Linked DNA regions of Homo sapiens. The protein of the gene in region 1 purifies or fractionates together with the protein of each later gene. This does not show direct contact. Each region holds a gene or a part of one and is shown on either strand. Other genes may lie near its edges.

Region 1 (3,274 bases):
TGTTCTACTTAAGGAGATTAGAGAGGGTGTGACAGTGATTTAATACATGCCTGCCTATGGTTGACAAATGAAAGCACTTCATAAGTAGATTTCAGTTATCCATTTTTCACATTCCATTAGGTAGTTAATGTAGTTCTTTCAGTTTCTCTTCTCATATTGATATATAAAGCCTTGGGAATAGCAGCAAACTGTTACTGCTCATTATTCTTCACTGCCTTCTTTTGGCAAATTGGTACTGGAGTAACTGACAGGGTTCTCCTAATAGGATCTTTCTTGTGGCACCCTGTACCTTTTCATATATTAGCGTTTTTACTGTCTGAGAAAGGAGATGCAAGGAAGTTTACCTGTTGGTACTAATTTTTAAGTTGCTTCCTTTTCCATTGCTAAGAAAGAAGAGGGCTTTCTTAGTTACTGGCCAACTCTCTTGAACACTGTATGGAAGCCATATGGATTGGAAACATTAGCCTCTGCTATATTTTTATAGCAGATGGGTACACACATTTGCATTAGGAATTCAATAGTTCTATGCTTTTGTTAGCTTTGTACTCCACTCCTGGACAAGAAATAACCCTTCACATGGAACCTATTTTTCTCTCCTTCCAAATGCCAGTCTGCTGTTCAAAGGCCACTCTTTTTTTTTTAAATGAAGTAATTAATAGGGCAGTTGGACTCCAAATAAGTCACTTGAGAGCAGTAAGATGTAGTTGTAAATAAGCTTTTTGAATAGGACCCAGCAGTAGCTCATTTAATATCACCTGAGATATTTTACAAACTAAGGATTGTTGTGATGTCAAACTATTTGATTCTACATGTTGTTTCGATACGTGGATATCAAGATATAAAGTAGCAGTTGGCTACCTAAAATGAAAAGAGCAATGTTCCATGGCACCTGAAATGTTAAAAATATTAGAAACTCTCCCCCACCCCATATTCCTCCCACCCCAATTGAGTCTCTCGCAATAATCTTCTCGCTTCTCTAACTAGTTGACTTTCATTATGGATGGGGATAGGCTAAAAAACGGGCCCCTGGGATGGCTGTGCTGCCATCAGTGCTGTTGGTTTACTCACTCTTTTTCTGTCTTCGTTTTTGCATGCTACTGCTCCTGCCCTCTTACAGCCACAGTAGAAGCGGTAGAGGCCCGGGAAGGTATGGCCATATTACTCTGATAGATGTGATCCATGTGTCTGTGTACTGGTTTTTCGAAGCTTTATCAACATTTCAAATATTTTATTATTGCATCACCAGAACTATAACAGTGAGAAAAGGTATAGTTGTTTCTAGGCATGTTAACGAAGCAGGTGTTTCCTTTGTGTCCTATCTTTGCATTAATTTTAAATAACCTTCACCACAGCTACAGTTTTTTTTCTGGGCTCTATCAGCTTTAATGCAACGGCAGAAGCTTAAGCAACTGGTCATGAGAGGTCAAGTGGTTTACTTCTGTATCCCTTCCATGTACAAGAGACATCCATTTGATTCTCAAGAGAGCCAAATAGGTCAGCCTCTTCAGCGATTCTAAAAGATTTCAAGAGCAGAGGCAGAAGTAGACTGGAATTTAGTTCAATTCATTTCTGAGGTTGCCCTAAGGTAGGCAAGTTAAATTAACTTTGTTTCTATGAAAACCATTGGAACTGATAAACTTGTATTATACTTGTAATTGTTTTATTAGGTAAGATGGTTCAAAACGCGAATGCCTTAACTTGGTGTTATAAAAGTTGAATCGGAAGGAAAATATGTAGAAGCTATTTTTAAGTTTTTAACTTATGTACAGCTCCTGGTTGTGCAAGATAGAAAGCTGTCCTAAACGAAAAGATTAGCTCTTTTGTTACTTTTTTTTGTGGTCTATGTGGCCTTTGTGCGAAAAGCAACTACCCTGGGTTTAACTTGTTCAATTATTCTAGTGTTGCCTTTGTTCTAGCATTGAGTATGTTTCTGGTGCATAAGACACTCTTTCTTAAAGGTACTGGGGCCCAGTAAGTACTTGTTAGCTTTTTGTTAGGTATATGTCTACCATGATTATGCATATAGAGCTTTTATGAAAATTACTTTCACAATTTCAGCTGCCCTTTGGGCTTTAAGGAAGCAGTAGCTGCAGCCAAGACTGATTCAGTCAGACATTGCCCATGACTTTCACTAGACGTGTGCTCCATAGCCACCTTTCTGTGTGTTTCTCTAGGAGGTTGCTGTGTGCTAAGAAACTTTTTTTAAGCCTGTTGCTTTGCTGCCTAATTGAGCTCTCTCCACCTGCTTCCTGTTTTTCTGTAGCCATCAGAGGGTTCTCGCTTCAGCACAAGATCCGGAGTTTTGAAGAAGCGCGAGGTCTGGACCGAATTAATGAGCGAATGCCACCCCGAAAGGATAGCATACACGCTGGTGGGCCAATGAAATCTGTAACCTCAGCACACTCACATGCTGCGCACAGGAGCGACCAAGGGAAGAAAGCCCATTCATGACTTAGAGTCCTGCCGTGGCTCAGGTGGATCTAAAACTCAAGAACAAATTCTATTTATTTATTATTGGAAAATGAAAAGCAACTCAAAACAACTTCAACGTGGAGGTGCATTTATAATTCAGTCTGCATTTATTCTGTAAAAAGGTGGCTGTTTTATAAATTCTTTTAATTTATGTTCAATATATATAAAAAGTGCATCTGTTTTGTTTTTCCCTTTTTTCTCCATAATTTTAAGAAATGAATCTGATTGTTGTCAACACATTTGTGAAGTCTTGTGCTATAAAGGGGAACTTCCCCTAATAAAAGGGCCTTGGAAACCTCAAACCTGGGTTTCTGACTTGAACTAGTCAGTCTTCATTATTGTTTTTTGGAAGGTAATGTCTTTCATGTAAGACTAATAACGTTTCAAATGCAAGAAGATTTTTTTCCTTTTCATTTTTTTCCTTTTCTGCTGGGTGCCATTGAAGAAAGTCCTCTTAGATTTCAGTGGCTAAAAGTGCTTCCCTTTTGATGGGAAACTGGATCATAGTAGAACTTCAAAGTGAATAACCCAAATCCAGTGATTTTAAGGGCGAAGGGAAATGTTTTCTATAATAACCTACTTTCTCTGGACTCTCAGTTCGTTTAAATATGTTCTAGTAAACAAAATAAAAAATAATAAGGGATGTTCTTAGATTTACTTAAAATCTGTTCATCTGACCATGGGCATGATTGGTTTAAATTTCCTTAGGACTTTGGAGGAGAAAGATTTTCAGAAAGCTTTCACAATTGCCAGATTATTTTACTTTCATTTTTGAACCCCAGGTGACTTCTGTAAAGGAAGT
Region 2 (3,500 bases), on another chromosome or scaffold:
TGTAGTGCAGTGGCACGATCTCAGCTCACTGCAACCTCCGTCTCCCGGGTTTAAGCAATTCTCCTGCCTCAGCCTCCTGAGTAGCTGGAATTACAGGCGTATGCCACCACACCTGGCTAATTTTTGTATTTTTAGTAGAGACTGGGTTTCGCCATGTTGGCCAGGCTGGTCTTGAACTCCTGACCTCAGGTGATCTGCCCACCTTGGCCTCCCAAAGTGCTGGGATTATAGGCATGAGCCACCTTGCCTGGCCCAGGACATTGTTAACTAATAAACCTTGTTTTTTGTTTTTTCCTGTTAACTCTGCCTTATGCTTAGCCTTGGAATTAAAAAAAAAAAGACTGGCATGCTAGTTCTTGACTCCTAGCTAGCCCATTCTTTCAGGGAATCATCTTCTTTGAATGTGTTCTTTGTCCCATAGTATAATAAACTATGAAGAAGAATGAGCATGCATCTATTTTCTGTCATCTGATTTAGCTAACAACTTCTTCACACTGTCACTGTGCTCCCAAGTGAAGGGGGCCAGAGTTGCCTCCATTTGGTGTCCGCAGTGAGCAACAGGTTAACGTTTCAAGGGAAGCTTGAAAACATTCTCGTTTTCAGAGAATGTTGATCTCTTTCAAAAGTCATAGCACTCTCCCACTGTCGACACACACATTTCTGGGGCTACTGTGTCAAATGCCATTCTAGGTGCTGGGCACGTAGTGGTAAAACAAGAACAGGCTGATCCTCCCTATCAAAACTTGTAATCTTGAGGGAATATAGACAATGAAGTAATTGCACAAAGAGCTATGCCATTACAAACTGGAAGACGGTGTGAAGGGAAAGTGCAGGAGGCTAGCACAGAACCTGCTCTCAGTCGCTGAAGGCCATCGTGGACACCATTGTATGAATTTCTTCAGGAAACTCTAGAAAAAGGTGACCTTGGACACTTTAGTTATTATTTAAGCCTTTTTTTTAAAAAAAATTTATTCATTTATCTCTTTTTAAAATAATACTGTTCGGCCGGGCATGGTGGCTCACACCTGTAATCCCAGCACTCTGGGAGGCCGAGGTGGGCAGATCACCTGAGGCCAGGAGTTTGAGACCAGCCTGGCTAACATGGTAAAACCCCATCTCTACTAAAAATACAAAAAATTAGCCAGGCGTGGTGGTGGGCGGCTGTAATCCCAGCTACTTGGGAGGCTGAGGCAGGAGAAAAGCTTGAACCCGTGAGGCAGAGGTGCAGTGAGCCAAGATCGCACCACCGCACTCCAGCCTCGGTGACAGAGGAGACTCTATCTCAAAAAAAAAAAAAACAAAACCCTATTGGTTGGAACATGCATTCTCCTTATTTTAAATCACAAATGAGGGCCTGACAAGGTGGCTCATGCTTATAATCTCAGCATTTTGGGAGGCCACGGCAGGAGGATTGCTGGAGGCCAGGAGATGGAAATTAGCCTGGTCAACATAGTGAGACCCCATCTTTATTAAAAAAAAAATCACAAATGAGAGTAGAGTCTGTTTTGGCTAGTGTTTATTGAGTACTTCTATATGCCAGGTATTTGGTACATTATTTACATGCATTATATCAATTCTCACAATAATTCTGTGAGGTAAGTACTAGTATCTCGTTTTTCAGTTGCAGGACTTGAGCCTTAGAGAGCTTAAGTAATTTGTTGATGATCATAAACTGAAGATGCTGAGTTTGAACCCAGGTCGAGCTGGAAGTCCTAAACGTGTAATTTTATGGCTTAAAAAAAAATAGGCCTACATACTGTTTTTCTACAAAATGTAATTGAGTATTAATTCAATTTAAAGCTGAATAAGATAATTGATTACAATGGGTCTTTAGTTAACATGACCTTGTTTAAAAAGTAGCGTCTTTAGATATCACTTTGTTCAGTTTTTTAAATTTTACAAATGAGAGAACCAAATCCCAGAGAGGTGTCACGTCCTAAGGTTATGCAATTAGTGAAAGAAACTGGACAGTTCTGCAGGGCCAAGGAGGAAAAAATAAACTTTTATTTCTTCTCTTGACTCTGGATTATATGGGCAACTTTGAGCCTCTCTTCACACATCCGATGATGTTCTAATATCTGCAAGCTGCAAAAACTTTTATTCTGAATAAACAATGTGAGTGCTGAAATAATTGAAACCAGTTTTTTTAAGTCCATTACATACTGATGAATTAAAAATTTCAGTTTTATCTTGTTAATACAGCATCATGTGAAATAATTTTTGTGCATTGTTAGAGAAAGTATAGATTTGATGGTCATGTAAAGAGTTTTGTAGATATTTAGTAGTTTTTTAGCAATGTCCCCCCATCCCGCTACATAATGGAGTTTTGTTGGCTATTCAGAAGAAGGGTGAATATTTTGTACTTTTTCTTTTTCAGATTTCACTGTGGGGAAATAAGTGTGATCTGTCTCTCTCAGGTGGAGAAAGTAGTTCTCAGAATACCAATGTACTAAATTCATTGGAAGACCTAAAACCTTTCATTTTATTGAATGATATGGAACATCTTTGGTCATTGCTTAGCAATTGCAAGAAAACAAGAGAAAAAGCTTCTGCTACTAGAGTGTATATTGTTCTCGATAATTCTGGATTTGAGCTTGTTACAGATTTAATATTAGCCGACTTCTTGTTGTCCTCTGAACTGGCTACTGAGGTTCATTTTTATGGAAAAACAATTCCATGGTTTGTTTCTGATACTACTATACATGATTTTAATTGGTTAATTGAACAGGTAAAACACAGTAATCATAAGTGGATGTCCAAGTGTGGGGCTGACTGGGAAGAGTATATTAAAATGGGTAAATGGGTTTACCACAATCATATATTTTGGACTCTGCCTCATGAGTACTGTGCAATGCCTCAGGTTGCACCTGACTTATATGCTGAACTACAGAAGGCACATTTAATTTTATTCAAGGGTGATTTGAATTACAGGAAGTTGACAGGTGACAGAAAATGGGAGTTTTCTGTTCCATTTCATCAGGCTCTGAATGGCTTCCATCCTGCACCACTCTGTACCATAAGAACATTAAAAGCTGAAATTCAGGTTGGTCTGCAGCCTGGGCAAGGGGAACAGCTCCTGGCCTCTGAGCCCAGCTGGTGGACCACTGGAAAATATGGAATATTTCAGTACGATGGTCCCCTTTGACTTGATTTAGGAGCTCTCAGTTGCATAGAAAGATCTGGTGAGCACCTTTTCATCCCCAGAAAAGGAGCACGTGAATTGAGTCGCCTGGCGGCTCTGTACGCGCTCAGGGAAGCTTAGCTTCTTGGTGCCCATCTACGTGCACTGGATGATTTTTCTTTTGAACATTTTGCCCCACTACACTGTTTTGGGGATAGCTGGGTTAAGCAAGTTAAAGATATTTACATTTATATTGGAATTTTAGCAACTTTTTTTCAGGTTAAATATATAATTTCAAGTGCTTTTAATGAACTTATTTTTAATTGGCTAGGGAGCAAAAAATAAGTGAGTTCTGCTTTTAGTTAGTTAACCTTGTTCT
Region 3 (3,500 bases), on another chromosome or scaffold:
CAAACACCCTTCAATGGCTTAATTTTACTTAGTGGTCATTCATATTCTTACTCCTGGTTATCTCTATAGTTGTATCTTTTTTTTTTTTTTTTTTGACAGGGAGTCTCTGTTGTCACCCAGGCTGGAGTGCAATGGTGCAATCTTGGCTTACTGCAACCTCCGCCTCTCGGGTCCAAGCAATTCTACTGACTCAGTAGCTGGGATTACAGGCACATGCCACCATGCCCAGCTAATTTTTGTATTTTTAGTAGAGACGGGGTTTCACTATGTTGGCCAGGCTGGTCTTGGGCTCCCGACCTCAGGTGATCTGCCTACCTCAGCCTCCCAAAGTGCTGGGATTATATAGGTGTGAGCCACCACACCTGGCCTATAGTTGTATCTTGAATGCTTCCCCCCTTCACACTCTCACACCAGCCATTATGAAATTTTTTTGTTCTCCTTCAGGCCTCTACATATGCCAAGTTGCCTCTGCCACAATCATTCTTCCTAAATTTTAGCCTGTCCCCTTTATGTTCTTTAGGACTTAGCTGGAGTGCCTTTACTGATGTAAGCTGGACTAGGTACTCATCCTTTGTAATTTCATAGTACTTTATTCCCCCAGTTCCCATCGCATTATCAAGCTATGTAAGAAAAAAAAGCAATGTGCTGCTCACTAGTGTCTAGCAAAAAACTTGATATTTAGTAGGCACTGGGTAGTTGAATGAATGAACAGGAGCCTGCATAGTCCAAGGAATTATTTGCCTGTGGCATTAAGCAACCAACCTTCCTGGATCCTAGTCCATGCTGTGGGATTTGGTTATCTTTTCCTGCCCCATTCCCACCCATTGATTCTTTTAAGTATCCCAGTTGGGTCACTGTCACTCTCCATAGTTTTTAGGTGCTCCCTATTGCGTCTAGGTTAAACCATCCCTTTGCCTTTCCATAATGTGGCCTCCAGTGCCCTGCCCTCTAGAGCTGTTTCCTGAGCCTCATGTAGCCAAACAAGCAAGCGTCTCATTCATGCCTTGCACTCTCCTAGCTGTGATTTTTTTTTTTTTTTTGAGACAGTCTTGCTTTTTCACCTAAGCCGGAGTGCAGTGGCGTGATCTCAGCTCACTGCAACCTCCGTCTCCTGGGTTCAAGTGATTCTCCTGCCTCAGCCTCCCGAGTAGCTGGGACTACAGGCATGTGCCACCCAGCCCAGCTAATTTCTGTATTTTTAGTAGAGACAGGGTTTCACCATGTTGGCCAGGCTGGTCTGGAACTCCTGGCCTCAAGTGATCTGCCCACCTTGGCCTCCCAAAGTGCTGGGATTACAGGCGTGAGCCACCGCTCCCGGCTAGCTGGGACTCTTGACTATGTCTTCTCCCTCTATCCAAAACTTCCTTCCTTCAAGGCCAGTTTCTTCAGAAAACTACTCAGAACCCAGAAATCCAGAGAACTGCTACTGTCTGTGCCTGTCATTCAGCTAGTAGCCACATGCTGCCTCACCATATTGTATCTTCTCAATTTTGTGACTCTGCCCTGACTGGTGCTTCTTGTGGGCATAACCCAAAACAGCAGACCTCAGTTTGCTGGTTACCTAAGGAAAAAGCAAGACATGGATGAGTAGTTAAGACAAATGGGTTTAAATAAGCTGAGCCAAAGCCCAAGAGATTTGCTAGTAACCAAAAGTATTTGGAGTTGTATTTGAATATATTACCCCTGCTGACACTCCCACATGGTTCTGACTTAATCTCTTTCTTGCCATAGGCCTGGGCTCTAACATCTTCCGCCTGCTAGACAGCCTGCGGGCCCTGTCAGGCCAGGCTGGATGTCGCCTCCGTGCCCTGCATCTCAGTGACCTGTTCTCACCACTGCCCATCCTGGAGCTGACACGTGCTATCGTGCGAGCACTGCCCCTGCTACGGGTCCTCTCTATTCGTGTTGACCACCCAAGCCAGCGGGACAACCCTGGTGTGCCAGGGAATGCAGGGCCCCCTAGCCACATAATAGGCGATGAGGAGATACCAGGTGAAGCACTGTGTGTGTGTTTGTGTGTGTGCACGCACGTGTATCCCCACACAAAGGTGCAGATGCATTCGTATGGGGAAAGGGGAAGGACCTCTTCTATCACTCATTCCTGGCTTATCTGGAACCTATCCCCCCTTTAGAGCCTACCACTAAGATACTCTTGAGCTAGACAGGGCCTAAACCACCATAAGACCAGCAGAGAGTGACCAAGGCAGCTTGGTCTCCAGAAAAGGAAAAGAACTGATCTTTAGACTGGATTAGTTCCCCTGCTGTATGTTCCCTTAGTTCTTGTATGTCTCCTATCCCACCACTCTGCATACTTTATTTGCTTGTGTCTGGGTAGCCTGTCTTCCTGGTCTAAAATTTCTACAAGGGCAAGGACTAAATCTCATATTTAGTGCTCAATTCCTAGAATCTAGCACAGTGCTGACATATGGTAGGCACTCAACGACAAGTGAATGAATAAATAATTTTTTAGATGAATCCCTTAAGAACAGGATGGGACCTGCTATGGGAGTGAGGTAGAGATGGCCAGCTGGAATCTTCTTTCCCCACCATATCCAGAAAACTGCCTGGAGCAGTTGGAGATGGGATTTCCACGGGGAGCCCAGCCAGCCCCACTGCTGTGCTCCGTTCTGAAGGCCTCGGGTTCTCTGCAGCAGCTGTCCCTGGATAGTGCCACCTTTGCCTCTCCCCAGGATTTTGGGCTTGTTTTGCAAACACTCAAAGGTAGGACCCAGCCAGAATGGTGAAGGGAGAGGAGTAGGTGGGGACCTAGCACTGTTCTCTAGGAAAGCTAAGGTCCATGGTCCATGGTCTCTGCCTCCTATCCAGAGTACAACCTAGCCCTGAAAAGACTGAGCTTCCATGACATGAATCTCGCTGACTGTCAGAGCGAGGTGCTCTTTTTGCTACAGAATCTGACTCTGCAAGGTAAGTTCCTTATTCAGAACCTGGACATTTCCTGGGTCTTCACTATGGTTCTGCCATAATCTGAGTGAGCAAACCACTGTTCCTTTCTTGGCCTTGTGTCCTCAGCTATAAAATGGATATAGAACCTGCATGATTTTCCTTCTAAAAGCCCCAACCTCAATTCCTCCTCTACTAAACATGAGAAATCGCTCTTTTAGAGTGCTTCACCCAAAAGTTGCTCTTACCTTTCAGAGGTGGACAAAATGGTGGTGGTGGGGCAAAATAAATGTACTGTGCCAGGCTCCCCTCATAGACTTTTCTCTGATCCCCACCCCCGCATAGAGGGTGGCCAGTGTTAGGGAAAGAAGGAAGTGAATGGAGAATTGTCCATGCAGAGAACCTTCTTATAGGGAACATTTAGGTTCAGTCTTTAGTTTGGATTCTGATTTAGTTCCAGCCTTGCTTGGAGTCTAGACAAATTCCTTCCTCTTTTTGGGCCTCTATAATGTTAATACCCCTTGCTAGGGCCAACTGGGGCAGGAGGGGCAGCACCAGTCCTAATGCAGCCATCAGAATTTACTATAATTTTTCTTGAC
Region 4 (3,500 bases), on another chromosome or scaffold:
CATTGTTTTTCTCCGAAGAAGGTAGGACTGAATCATCCCTAAAGTTCCTTCCAGCTCTGCCAGTCTGTAGTCTGACAGTCTTGATTCTGTAACCCTCCCAAGAAAACACAAGAGTTTTAAGCACCTTTGTTTCTTTGAGGATACCCCTGTGTGTACTCCACTCTTCTGATGTCTTTCTGGACTCCTCGATCCTTGTAAAATTGATTCTGTTTATTGGAGGTGAAATTCATTGGGTGATTCCTGTGTACAACGTAAAAGTTCTGTCATTAACTGAATAGCCATAAAAAGCCTTTAAATCTCCGTAAAGCAGCTGTTAGATGAGAAAACTTAGTTCCTTAAAGCTTTTCAAATGAGCACAGCACAAAAAGAAATGAAGGTGCTGCTGAATGTCAAACTGATGAGTACTATAGCTGGAGGGTATAGATGGAAATAGTACTCATGAATGTGGATCACAAAATGAAGCTAAATTCTTACTATTCAGATATGATTTGTTCAGGTGCCCTAGAATTTATGCATTTGGACACCTTCTGTGTATAAGGCACTGTTCTGCATTCTTGATGGGGTGGGGACAGCCTCAGAGAGGTATAAGACACAGTCTTTATCATGAAAGAGCTGAGCACAGTTAACTATAAAAGCGAAGCACATGACATGTATCTTAGAAGGGCTCCTGTTAAGTACCACAGGAGGTCAGAGTAGGGATGTCAGGGCAAGCTACATGGAGGGCTGGCTTTTAGCTGGGCTTGGATGAATGCTTAGAATGTGGACAAGTGGAGATTAGAGAAAAACAGGTCATTCCAGATGGAGAAAACTTACCAGGAGCAAAGCAAGATAAGGCTCGGTGTATTTTTTCTATTTCAGGTAGAAATGTAAATCTACAAGTTGAGATCTATTGAGGTCATTTAAAAATCTATCATTTTTCAGGCTGGGTACTGTGGCTCACGCCTGTAATCCCAGTACTTTGGAAGGCCAAGGCTGGCAGATCACCTGAGGTCAGGATTTCGAGACCAGCCTGGCCAACATGGTGAAACCCCATCTCTATCAAAAAATACAAAAATTCGTCGGGCATGGTGGTGCACACCTGTAGTCCCAGCTACCGAGGAGGCTGAGGTGGGAGAATCGCTTGAACCTGGAAGGTGGAGGTTGTAATGAGCCAAGATTATGCCACTGCACTCCAGCCTGGGCAACAGAGTGATACTCTGTCTCAAAAAAAAAAAAAATGTGTGTGTATATATATATGTGTGTATATATATACACACACATATATGTATATATATATGCGTATGTATATATACACACACACGTGTATGTGCGTGTGTACACACATATGTGTATGTGCGTGTGTACACACATATATGTGTATGTGCGTGTGTACACACATATATGTGTATGTGCGTGTGTACACATATATGTGTGTATACACATATATGTGTATGTGCGTGTGTACACACATATGTGTATGTGTGTGTGTATATACACATATGTGTGTATATGTATATATGTGTGTATATATGTATATGTGTGTATATATGTATATATGTATATGTGTATATATATGTGTATATATATATGAAATTTTTCATAAATTCTTTTCATTATCTATTATCACTGAAATTCCATCATACCATTAAGATACATGCAGAATTGTTCTCACTCATAGGTGGGAATTGAACAATGAGAACACATGGACACAGGAAGGGGAACATCACACACCGGGTCCTGTTATGGGGTCGGGGGAGGGGGGAGGGATAGCATTAGGAGATATACCTAATGTAAATGACGAGTTAATGGGTGCAGCACACCAACATGGCACATGTATACATATGTAACAAACCTGCACATTGTGCACATGTACCCTAAAACTTAAAGTATAATTAAAAAAAAAAGATACATGCAAATTTATGTCTGTTAGGTATTTACCATATGGAAAAACTAAAATAATCAAGAAAGGAAATTCAGTAGGTGGTTGACAGTTTAAATACAAATCACAAATGACATCTTTTTAAATATAACAAGTAGCTTATTTTTAAAGGTGTCACTTACTTTGCAAAGGATAAGGAGAACTGTTATTAAGAATTTACCAGGTTGGAATGGCTAGTGTTTATGGGAGAGAGTTTAGCACAAGACGGAGTGAGACAAGATTGCTGGGGTCTTATTTTGAATCCAGCAGCCAACGCTGTATGGAATAGTGAAAAAGTTGCCTCTTTCTGTGCTTGTTTTCTACTTGGTATCTTTAAGAATGGGCTATTTAGGAGCAAGGAGCCTAGCAGAAAGCATCTGTCAATCTTCTAAAACTTTACCTACAAAAGTTTTACTGGCTTGTGTCCCACCAGTGTGTTTCAAAGCCAGAAAGTATATTGGCCACAAGCACCTGTAGGTGGCTGAGGTGTGACTGTAGTCATCCGTGAGTCATGTTTTCAGTATGTATTGAAATTCCTTATTTGGACTTGATTTCAAAGGTAGAAGGGCCTTTTACAGGTGAAGGAACTGAGATTGAGACACATCAAGAGTCTAGCCTCGAGCTTCTGTTCAGTGTTTTTCCCAAAATTATTGTTTCCTTCTGGTCTGGGACTCTAGAGCAAAGATTGAAAACTGTGGCCCAAAGTGTGAGCCAAATCCAGCCACCATGCGTTTTTTTTAAATCAAGTTTTCCTGGAAAACAGCCAAACCCATTTATTTGGTATTGCCTATGTCTGCTTCCATGCTGCAGTGGCAGAGTTGAGTAGTTACAACAGAGATTGCATGGCCAGCAACACCTAAAACATTTATTAGTTGGCCCTTTACAGAAAACGTTTGATGCTCTCTGCCTTGCAACATTGTGTACGTGGTGGTCAGTGTGCTTGGAATCATAGGTGCAATGTAGGATGCAGACTTAGAAAACAGTGCCCTTGCTCCCAAGGAATTATTTGCACTTTAGATGACAAGGCATGTTTGAGACATGTGAAAGGAACAATAACAAGTTATGTAAGAGAGGAGACAGGTTCTGGACTGCAGGCTATATTTTCAGACCAACCAGAATAGTTACGATAATATCATTAACATAAATAAAATACTAAGTATTTAGCTACGTAAAAGAAACGATTTATTTGCACTTTGGATTATACAGTTCTTCATTCATTGATTCAAAAATTATTGCCAGTCTGCTCATGTGCCAGGCATTGTTCTAGATGATAGGGCACTGCATCTCTAAATGCCAAATTTCGTATCCTTGCTGGTGGAAGGCAATGTCCTCTTGCTTTATGCCATGACACAAACTAAGCTCCTGCTTTAACTATAGACAGCTAAATCTTAAACGAACACTTTTCAGTCAGTTTAGTTTTCTCTTAAAGTACTTTAATTCCGTTAAAACCTGAGCCACCAGATTTCCTGTCTGCCTGTCTCTTCCTTGGCCTTAATCCAAAACTCTGCTGAGGAAGAAGATTCGTTGGTACACTGACAATTGTTTTATAATCCATTCATTTCATAACCCCTCATTTGCTACCCAAAAGTGGGGACCTAAATCT
Region 5 (3,500 bases), on another chromosome or scaffold:
AGCATTGTTTCCAGCTCGGCTAAAGGTGGGCATACACGGAATCTTTCTTCTCAGCCTGATGATGATCCCGCTGTCTCTTTCTCTCGTTGGACAACCACAGGGACCCCCATCAACCGAATCCCCATCATGGCCAAACAGATCCTGGACCTGTACATGCTGTATAAGCTGGTGACCGAGAAGGGAGGCCTGGTGGAGATCATCAACAAGAAGATCTGGAGGGAGATCACCAAAGGCCTAAACCTGCCCACATCCATCACCAGCGCCGCCTTCACCCTCAGGACGCAGTGAGTGGCCAGGGCCTGGGAGAAGGAAGCTGAGGCTGGAGAAAGGGGATGTTGTAACCTAGAGGAGAGGAAGGAAGGAAATTCCTTTGTATGGTTAGCAAGATGAGTGGATTCCCGAAACAGTGGGGAGCTTTCTGAGATGAATCCCTCACTAAACCAAGTAGTGATGAGAACCACCATTTACCAAGTGTCTACTCTGTGCTGGTACTTTACTATTTCATTTAAACCTCACAGTCAACCCTGTAAAGTAGGTATGCCCCCATTTCCCACATTACAAAAATGAAGTCTCCATGGTTAAATAATTTGGCTAAGGTCATATACCAGCCAGTAAGTGGTAGAGCTGAGATTCAGACCTGGGCTTCTGTCTCTAAGACCTGTGCCCCTTCCAGGACATTGTCTTCCAAACAGCATCTCCACCCCAAGTGGCCCCTCTTACCTGATATTCAGCTTACCCAGCGGCAGAGGACCCAGAGAAAGGCAGGCAGGAAGGCCCCCTTGGATTGGTGACCTGGTTTTGTCAGCATTTGAGTTAATTACATGGGTGATGGAAGCGGTGAAACCAATAGTAGCACTGAAGAATGAGGGCCAGAGAGGAATCTTTTCTTCTGGAACACTCTGGAAGTTGTTCTGTGAAGAGTATGCAATGAACAACTGACATCAGTTAGGTAGCATGTTGTAGCTACAACCAGAATGGCAAGGTTCTTGGGTAGAGAACTGCTTCTTGGGACCTAAGACACAAAGAATGACAGTGTCTAGGTCCCATGCACAATGGGAAGAATTGCTCCTATCTGACTAGCCCAGCTCTGAATGGTTATAAGATCAAGAAGTCAGAAAGCCCTTGTAAAACATGGGCCTAATTTTTCCCAGGGCTTCAAAACAAATGTGAAAACGCCAACTAAGATGTTATTTATTTCCCCTAATGAATGGTGCTTCAAAGTAGAGCCTATTTAGGATTGAGTGGCAGTCAGAGGAGGCTGGGGCAGAGTGTCCGGCCATCCCAGACTTTTCTGCCAAGTATACCAAGGTTGCAATCCTTTGCCCTAGAGTCCTGCCCAACAGAGACTGCTTCCAGAGACCCACCAACCTCAACTGGGTGGTCTCTGGTGCTGTTTTGGATTATTCTCCCTGCTTGCTTCCTTTCCTCCAGGTACATGAAGTATCTGTATGCCTATGAGTGTGAGAAGAAAGCCTTGAGTTCCCCAGCCGAGCTCCAGGCAGCAATTGATGGCAACCGCAGGGAGGGCCGGCGGCCCAGCTACAGCTCCTCCCTCTTTGGCTACTCACCTGCTGCGGCTACTGCTGCTGCCGCTGCCGGGGCCCCTGCCCTTCTCTCCCCACCCAAGATCCGCTTTCCCATCCTTGGGCTTGGCTCCAGCAGTGGTACCAATACCAGTAGCCCTCGGATATCCCCAGCAACCACTCTCAGGAAAGGTCAGCAGGGCTCCTGGGGGAGAAGGAAGAAAGGGAGGAAGGGATGCCAGTTCCCTGTGTTCAAGACTGGGGTTTTGGGGCAAGAGGGTCAATTGTGGATTGGTCCAGCTCCAGTTCCTTTGCAGGTGATGGAGCCCCAGTGACAACAGTGCCTGTGCCAAATCGTCTGGCTGTGCCCGTGACCTTGGCAAGCCAGCAGGCTGGTACTCGGACCGCCGCACTGGAGCAGCTGCGGGAGCGGCTGGAGTCAGGGGAGCCTGCTGAGAAGAAGGCATCGAGGCTGTCTGAGGAGGAGCAGCGCCTGGTGCAGCAGGCCTTCCAGCGCAACTTTTTCAGCATGGCACGGCAGCTCCCCATGAAGATCAGGATCAACGGCAGGGGTGAGCCAGGCTCAGGGCCGGGCCTTCCCTTCCTGGAAACCCCAAGCCCATTCACGCCTCCTGGGACTGGTGGGGCAGGGGTGGTGAGGCACATACTCCTGACCTGGAAGAGGCCCCTCCAGGTTCTGCCTTCCAGGCCCCTAGAAGAGAGGCACTGAGATCTTAGTTCACCAAGCTGAGGTTGTTTGGTAGAGGGGACCACATGTTGCCTCAGGCAGTGCCCTGTTCTCTAGTAAGAGGGAAAAGCAGTTATTCACAGAGGAGGAGCCAGAGGCCTTCAGAGAGCTGCTGCGTTTCCCCACCAGCCATTACCCCAGCACCTCACTGGATGTAGGCAAGAGCAGGGCACCGTCTGCAGGTCTGGGAGGAAGACACCCCATGTTCCTGAGGCTCAGCGAGGGGCCAAGTTGCCCCGGGCTGGACAGTGGGACTCAGGAATATAGACAGAAGGAGGAAACACAAGTTTGGCAGCATAATTGACATCCTTTCCCTTCCTCTTCACATTGTTCTGGTGCCCCACATTCTCTTCCTCAAGCCACACGCCCCTTTTCCCATTCACACACATTCTTTCCCATTCTGGTCCTGATGCTATCTCAAAGCAAACATGAATGAGATGTGTGGGAAGGAGCCAGGTGTGAAGGGAGCTATACATATTCCCAGGCTGCCCCTCCTACCCCATTGCCCTTGGGGACCAGAAGGAAACTGGGAGGTAACAGCTCATCCAGGGCCAGGTACCCTGCTCCTGCACAAAGCAAAGGGCTGTTAGAAAAGACAGCTCACCGGGAAGAATTCTGAGTCTGGGGTGAGCCAGCCAAAGGCCGTGTGTGCCAGCACTTGCAGGCTTCCACAAACGCCAGCTGCCTGGGTGGTCATGGAGGGGAGGGGCTGAGGGCGTAGACTCCTCTCTCTGAGGGACTCAGAGTCAAAGGAAAGAAAGGGCAGGTGGGTCCTCAAAGTTGGGGCTGGGTCTCATTGATCTCTGATTTCCTGGGCCTGGTGTATAGTGTAGTTCAGGGTTTGCCCGTCACTTGGAAAGTGCCAGTGCAGAGTGGTGGGGCCGGAGCCGGCCTCCTTGCCTACTGTGATTCCTTTTCTCTGGGAGCAGAGGTAGTTGAGGGGATGAACTGGGTCAGTGGAAAAAGCCAGCAACAGGAGATTGGCGAGCCTGGGATCTCCTGCCATACCCTACACTCAGGAGAAGGTTACATAGATGCCTTTTAACAGCGTGAGGCTTTGACCAGGGGTGGCCAGGCAGCATCAGAGAGGACAACAGGAGTGCTGTGGAAGGCTTGACCAGGCCCACTGTCTCCCTGTCCCCAGCAGAAGACAGAGCAGAGGCCTCGGCTGCAGCACTGAACCTGACCACGAGTAGCATTGGGAGCATTAACATGTCTGTGGACATCGA
Region 6 (2,497 bases), on another chromosome or scaffold:
TGTTTTCTTACCCCAAATGTTCCTTGCTTGCTTTGCACATGCCCCACCTCCCACCCACCAAGACCCATTGGAATCCCACCACTGCCTCTACTAGGCTGCCTGAGTTCAGATAATGATCTCAAAAACAGCACTCGCTCCCCTCACCCACTAACCCCCTGGCTCTAAGCAGCTTCCTTTCTCAGAGGGCCTTGCAAATTGTCAGAGGGCTCCACTGCTCGGCAAATTTCAAAAAAAAAAAAAGGCAAGAAAAGAAAAGAAAACCAACTCGGTGATCTGCAGGTGCAAAACAGAAGCCTCGTTTGACATTTTCAGAACAATTGCGGCTCACTCTCTTCTTCCGTCATGATGGGAAAAACACAGTTCAGGAACAGATGCTGGCTGGTATGACCCATGGGAGTCCACAGGGACTCTACTGCTCTTTATTTTCTTTCGCTGTCTCTTCGCAGTTATCTTGCTCATCCTCCTGGACCAGGAACTCCTCAGGGGGCCACCGGAGCTCCCCGCTCTCCACCTCCCCTTCTGTGGGTTCCACCACTATGGAGGGCAGACGGTCCTTCAGTTTGCAGCAGCGGTCAAAATCTGACGGGTCTGGGAAGATCTGAAAGAAAAGCAGAGCAGGTGCCTGGTCACGTAGATATTTGAAAAGAGAAATTCCATTCCTTCTTTGCACATCCATGTGGCATACTGGGTGCATGCCATAGGCCAGGGACTGTGCTTTGCACTCGGGAGGCTGTGGAGTATATAAGGTGGGAGCCACGGGAGAATATTCTGGGGCAACATAGGAAACTGTCCCTCAGTCAGACTTCCATTCCAATCCTGAAGCTGAAAGTTTGGGGGCAGTGCCGCTGAGTTTAAAGGTTGATGTGATTCTGTTTGGATTCTGTATTTTATTTGCAGATAAAATCATCCCAAATCATGTTATCCACAGTAAGTCTGGTCTCTCTCTGCAGGAAGTATTTTACTCCAGCAGTACAAAGAATACAACAGGTGCCACAGCATTAAGTACCTCCCGGAATAATTATTGGCACTAAGTGAGCAGGTTACCAGGTGCTATACATATATCACTTCCAACCCACACAGTCATGCTGAAAAACAGGTGTTGCTAATGCTAGCTTAAAGAATCTCAGGCTTGGGAGAGTAGGTGGTCCAAGACCAGACAGCCTAGAAATGAGTGAGGGATGGGATGAGATTGAAAACTGGGTCTGGGCTGGGCCTGGTGGCTCACACCTGTAATCCCAGTGCTTTCGGATGCTGAGGCAGGTGGATCACGAGGTCAGGAGATCGAGACCATCCTGGCTAACATGGTGAAACCTCTCATATGGTAAACTACTAAAAATACAAAAAAAATTAGGCGGGCATGGTGGTGGGCGCCTGTATTCCCAGCTACTCCGGAGACTGAGGCAGAAAATGGTGTGAACCCGGGAGGCGGAGCTTGTGGTGAGCCGAGATCACGCCACTGGACTCCAGTCTGGGCGACAGAGCGAGACTCCATCTTGAAAATAAAAAAAAACAAAAACTGGATATGTTCGATTCCCCTGCCCCAACACCAGCTTGTCCCTCAAGCAGATGGGTCCTCATCCCATTGCAACTGTAAAGTCAAAGCCAAATCCTGATGAACGGCATGGTCCCCAGTCACAGGCAGGCTGGGAACAAAATCCAAGGATCCTTTTTCACCTGTGAACAGTTCCTGGCTTCTTGCCAGCTCTACACCTGAAGGAGTCTACTTCTTTTTCCAGAGTCCCGTCAGCCAGGCTTTGTTTTTTAATGCCTACTTTGTGTCCTGCCCAGAGCTGGCAGAAACTCCAAACCCAGCTATAAAATCAGGGCCAAATCTGGCTCTGCGGATTCCCTTTGCATACACTGCCCTGTGACTACAGCTGACCCAATTCTTGGCCCAGCAGTTTAAGTACTTAATCCGCTGGGCTGCTGGTCCCTGCCATTCACAGCCCTCAGTGACACACCCCAGAGCTAGAGAGAGAAGCCTCTGTCTGGGATGCTGGGCTCCCAGAATCAGGCACTTGGCACCTTCATGGCCATCTCTTCCCACCTCTCCATTTGGTAGATGAGCAACTCAAGGCCCCAGAGGGGTCAGGAGACCTGCCTAAGGTCACACAGCTTGTTCATGGCACAAGAAAGGAAAGCAAAACTTTGAGTGGGTGGAGACACATTTGAAGAGATCTGGGGGGCTGCCTGGTCCTGCCTGCACCTTGATCCAGATGGGGACAGGCCCACGGCAGCAGACAGGAGTCACCCATTACCAGGACATAGAAGAAAGGCCCTTTTACAAACTCAGGCCTTCCCAACTTCTGTGGTGCTCTGAGGATACCCGGTCTTATTGCAACCCAACCCCATGCAGTGCTGCCCCAGCCAAGTCACACTCTCACCACATCACAGGCCACGTGGGGCTTCCAGGAATCACAGGCCTCAGTGAAGCCTTCCCAATACCTGCAAACGAGTGATTATTAACCATTTATCCAATAAGACCTATTGCTGGGGA
Region 7 (3,446 bases), on another chromosome or scaffold:
AGGCCTTGGTGAGAGAAACCCCTGTCTCCTTTAATCCTGGATGGTAGCTGTGGCTTCAGCGGGGACTAAGAGCCAACAGACGGCTTGGGGCTGGCCCCAGGCTGCCCTGACCGCCTTTACAGCATGCCCAGGAGGACGGCTCCAGCCAACCCAGCCTCCCCTTCTTCCTCAGGCCACGGGCAGGCTGAACAAGAGAAAAACCTTTTCTGCCCATGGCAGGGCCCGCCCAGGCAGCCAGCGCCGGGATGACGCGAGCTGTAAATCACCCCGTGGACCACAGACCCAGTGCCATCCCCACGGGTTTCCTTTCCGCTTCTTAATCCTCCTCCTCAGACTCGGTAACACAAAGCAGATTCCTGCTGGGGCCAGCCATGCACAGTGGGCTTGGAGAATGTGAGCCTGGGATTTACCACATCAAGATGCTCCCGCCTCTCACTTTTCCTTTTCTCCCTCCTGAGCCACTATTAGCTGGAGAGCACTCCCTCCCTCTGGCCCGGCTCCCTCGCCCTCCTTGGACCCCACTTCAGCCTTGCCCCAGACTTGCGTCTTGGCTGGCTGCCCCGGCCCACGGGGCTCACCAGGGCCTGTGGTTAGCAGGCCCTCCACGTCGTGGTTTGGCTCCATCCTGGCTCCCCAAGCCTCTGTCTCAGTGAGAGCAGCCTCTGTGTGGTAGAATGAACACTGCCGATCTGGATTCAAATCCTGGCACTGGCAACTTCTAGCACTTCCTTCTCGGAGCCTGGGATTGCTCACTCATGAGAGGGGGGAATGGGAATGCTCCCTGGCAGGTCGGAGGTGCCTGACAGATGTTTTGCTTTAAAAATAACTACTTATTAATAGCTGTTGGTTGAGGGTTGGAGCACGAATCAAAAGGGTGTTTGGAGTTGCTTTAAGAGGGTTATGTTGTACCAGGTTCAGGGACTTTGTTATTTTTCATCCTGGGTGGATCTGGAGGTCTCACAGAGCCTCCCCACCGGCTCTGACCTCCCCAGAGAGCTAAAACCCCACAGGCCCCATGACCTTGCCCCCTGTCCCATCCCTTCCTGGTAGCCAGTTACACCGTCTGCTCAGAGCGCCAAGTTCAGCTGCCAGAATGAGGATTGCACAGATCAGGGCTGCAGGGAACTTAAAGGTGGTCTAACCCAGCAATTTTCGAACTGTGCTCCTTAGCACCCTGATTCTCAGACATGTCCCAGGCTCTCTGTTGGAAGGAATGCAATAGGTCTCTGGGTCCCCCTTCCTCTGTGTCCCCTGACTCCACTGCAATCAAATAGACAGACACATGTTTTCTGTGTTAGTGTTCCATGTACTTCATTCTCCTGCTTAAAAGGAGCTTTCATCGATCTGCTCCAGCCACGCCATTTTACAGATGAGGACACTGAGGCCTAGAGAAGTCAAATGACTTGTTTTAGGTCACCCAGCTGGCAGGTGAATGTGCTACAACTAGAGTGGGCCTTGTGACTCCTAGGGCAGCGCAAGGAAGCTGCAGATGGCCATTCCAGTGGGACTGAGCCTGCAGAGGAGCCTGCCACCCCAGGGTGGGGACGGGCCTCTGAGATCCCTCAGAGGGGTGGCCCTGGGGATTGTGGTGTCAGCCCCAGGTGTCCCCGAGCTTCCAGCGGCCCTGGCTCCCACTACCCACTGTGGTCCTCTTCTTTCCCCAAACCAACCAAAACGCAGGGCCTCTGAAATGCAGCACTAAGGAACAGGGGGACAGTGTGGGCTCTGGAGGCAGCCAGGCCGGGGTTTGAATCCTGGCTCTTCCACTTATCGAACCCTTCAAGGTGGGGGCCCCTCTGCCTGGAGGACTCAGTGAAGGGACATTCTGCAGCTGTCCAGAAACAGGAACCAGGTGGAGCAGGGGCAGCTTTTAATGGCTGGTCATGTCTTTCAGGAGTGACTGGCTGCAGGCAAGACCAAGGCCACCACTGTGGGCCCTCCTTCCAGTCAGGCCTGAGGACAAGGTGAGCTCGCTGAGTCCAGCCTCGTGGTCTTCTCCAAGATGCCGCCAGATGCCCAGCCTACAGCCTCTCAGGGTCGGATCGGAGCACGCCTGCCTCCCTCTCCCCTCCGCCCTCACCCAGCCAATCCGAGGCTGCTTCGCACTTTGCCCTCTGCCTGGTGGGGAGGGGAGAGCTCAGCCCCCGACTCACTCAGACCCCAAGGCCCACTGTCCAGCTGCAGAAATTCGTTGCCAAAGATTGGACAGAGACACCGAAGGAAATGGGGTGGTGAAACCCCACAGCGAAAAGCCACACCGTTGCTCTGTGACTTTTGCTCCTCCTGTTGCCTGAGCCCCATCTCAAGCCAAAGATGAGTCAGTGGTTCTGCTAGGAACTCATGGAATGGATGGGCATTTGATGACCCCTGGGGGTCATCTTGGCCCTCTGACCTGGTGCTCTCTCTCCACTGGGCCTTGTGCTGGCTGAGTGCAAGACAAGCCTTAGGGGCTGTGAGAGGGAGGCTGGGGTGCCTGGGCGGGGCTGGGAGTGGGACCTGAGATCCCTGCCCACTCTCTCCCCTTCATTGGCTGCCCAGGCCACTGGCCCCAGTTCTCAGTGTCCCTTGGGTCCAGGCTCCTTGGGCCCTAAGCATCACCAGAAGGGAGTAAGCAGGGAGAGAAGCAATATTACTCCCTCCCCTACACCAGGGACTTGCCCCAGGGCAGCTACCTATGGGTCTTTGCTTCCCCAGCCAGCCTCTCCTCACTGTGACCCACCCCCATGGGCCCCCGTCCCAGGCAGCCAGCACCATGGGCAGGCCCTGCCATGGACAGAAAAAGAGTTTTTCTCTTGTTCAGCCTGCACGTGGCCTGAGGAAGGAGTAGAGGCTGGGTTGGCTGGAGCCGTCCTACTGGGCAAGATGGCGCCCCACTTGGAGGGCGGTGGTCTGTTACAGGGTGTGCAGGGGCAGAGAAGGAAGGGACCAGGGGACTGGGCCAGTATGTGGAGGATGGGGCCTGCGTGTTCAAAGCCAAGGCCCGCCCCTTCCTTGTGCTCAAATGGCCAAAGCTGTTCACGTCTGTGCTCAACCATCTGCTTCAAATTGAAGTAAAAGCCCCAAAATGTCAAGAAAATACTTGTGTTGAGTGGACTCTGTGGGTGACCAGGACTTTGGCCGGTCATCAGCTGGGGAGTGTGAGGGAGGGGGTTGGTTTCTACCTACAGGTTGAGAGCCCTTCAGGATCAGGCGCTGTCCGAGTGAGAGTGTGTGTGTCTGTGTGTGGAAGGGGGTGGAGGGCGGTTCCCACAGTAGTCTCAGCCTGGACTAGTGACCAGGAGGCCTGGTCAGGAACACATGAGGAGCCCTCTCTGTCCGCACTGCACTCAATCTGTACCATGGATTTATGAGATAGGGGCCCCTATTATTAACCCCGTTTCACAGATGGGGTAACTGAGGCCTCAAGTAGACAGGGTCAGTCGGTGACAGAGCCAGTCATCGAATCA

What was found.
Region 2: the proteins of PPP3CC (region 1) and DCPH1 fractionate together in Homo sapiens (co-fractionation; one large-scale study listed by BioGRID). This does not show direct contact.
Region 3: the proteins of PPP3CC (region 1) and LRRC41 purify together in Homo sapiens (affinity purification with mass spectrometry; 3 studies listed by BioGRID and IntAct, with this or other methods). This does not show direct contact.
Region 4: the proteins of PPP3CC (region 1) and ETV6 purify together in Homo sapiens (co-immunoprecipitation; one large-scale study listed by IntAct). This does not show direct contact.
Region 5: the proteins of PPP3CC (region 1) and ARID3B purify together in Homo sapiens (affinity purification with mass spectrometry; 2 studies listed by BioGRID and IntAct, with this or other methods). This does not show direct contact.
Region 6: the proteins of PPP3CC (region 1) and LBH purify together in Homo sapiens (affinity purification with mass spectrometry; one large-scale study listed by BioGRID and IntAct). This does not show direct contact.
Region 7: the proteins of PPP3CC (region 1) and ATOH8 purify together in Homo sapiens (pull-down; one study listed by IntAct). This does not show direct contact.

Annotation. Positions count from the first base shown.
Region 1 is NC_000008.11:22,538,352-22,541,625, forward strand, and holds the end of PPP3CC (serine/threonine-protein phosphatase 2B catalytic subunit gamma isoform), read left to right. Parts: intron 1-1,117; coding exon 1,118-1,147; intron 1,148-1,380; coding exon of another isoform or gene 1,381-1,517; exon of another isoform or gene 1,518-1,585; intron 1,586-2,263; coding exon 2,264-2,451; 3' UTR 2,452-2,774; downstream 2,775-3,274. UniProt on the Homo sapiens protein: Calcium-dependent, calmodulin-stimulated protein phosphatase which plays an essential role in the transduction of intracellular Ca(2+)-mediated signals. Dephosphorylates and activates transcription factor NFATC1.
Region 2 is NC_000006.12:151,465,966-151,469,465, forward strand, and holds part of DCPH1 (damage-control phosphatase ARMT1), read left to right. Parts: intron 1-2,377; coding exon 2,378-3,145; 3' UTR 3,146-3,500. UniProt on the Homo sapiens protein: Metal-dependent phosphatase that shows phosphatase activity against several substrates, including fructose-1-phosphate and fructose-6-phosphate.
Region 3 is NC_000001.11:46,279,617-46,283,116, reverse strand, and holds part of LRRC41 (leucine-rich repeat-containing protein 41), read left to right. Parts: intron 1-1,731; coding exon 1,732-1,992; intron 1,993-2,556; coding exon 2,557-2,721; intron 2,722-2,826; coding exon 2,827-2,925; intron 2,926-3,500. UniProt on the Homo sapiens protein: Probable substrate recognition component of an ECS (Elongin BC-CUL2/5-SOCS-box protein) E3 ubiquitin ligase complex which mediates the ubiquitination and subsequent proteasomal degradation of target proteins.
Region 4 is NC_000012.12:11,873,174-11,876,673, forward strand, and holds part of ETV6 (transcription factor ETV6), read left to right. Parts: intron 1-3,500. UniProt on the Homo sapiens protein: Transcriptional repressor; binds to the DNA sequence 5'-CCGGAAGT-3'. Plays a role in hematopoiesis and malignant transformation.
Region 5 is NC_000015.10:74,589,720-74,593,219, forward strand, and holds part of ARID3B (AT-rich interactive domain-containing protein 3B), read left to right. Parts: exon of another isoform or gene 1-100; coding exon 101-284; exon of another isoform or gene 285-342; intron 343-736; exon of another isoform or gene 737-1,387; intron 1,388-1,431; coding exon 1,432-1,715; intron 1,716-1,840; coding exon 1,841-2,095; intron 2,096-3,415; coding exon of another isoform or gene 3,416-3,418; coding exon 3,419-3,500. UniProt on the Homo sapiens protein: Transcription factor which may be involved in neuroblastoma growth and malignant transformation. Favors nuclear targeting of ARID3A.
Region 6 is NC_000002.12:30,255,534-30,258,030, reverse strand, and holds part of LBH (protein LBH), read right to left. Parts: intron 599-2,497; coding exon 410-598; 3' UTR 1-409. UniProt on the Homo sapiens protein: Transcriptional activator which may act in mitogen-activated protein kinase signaling pathway.
Region 7 is NC_000002.12:85,784,991-85,788,436, forward strand, and holds part of ATOH8 (transcription factor ATOH8), read left to right. Parts: intron 1-1,894; coding exon 1,895-1,900; 3' UTR 1,901-3,446. UniProt on the Homo sapiens protein: Transcription factor that binds a palindromic (canonical) core consensus DNA sequence 5'-CANNTG- 3' known as an E-box element, possibly as a heterodimer with other bHLH proteins.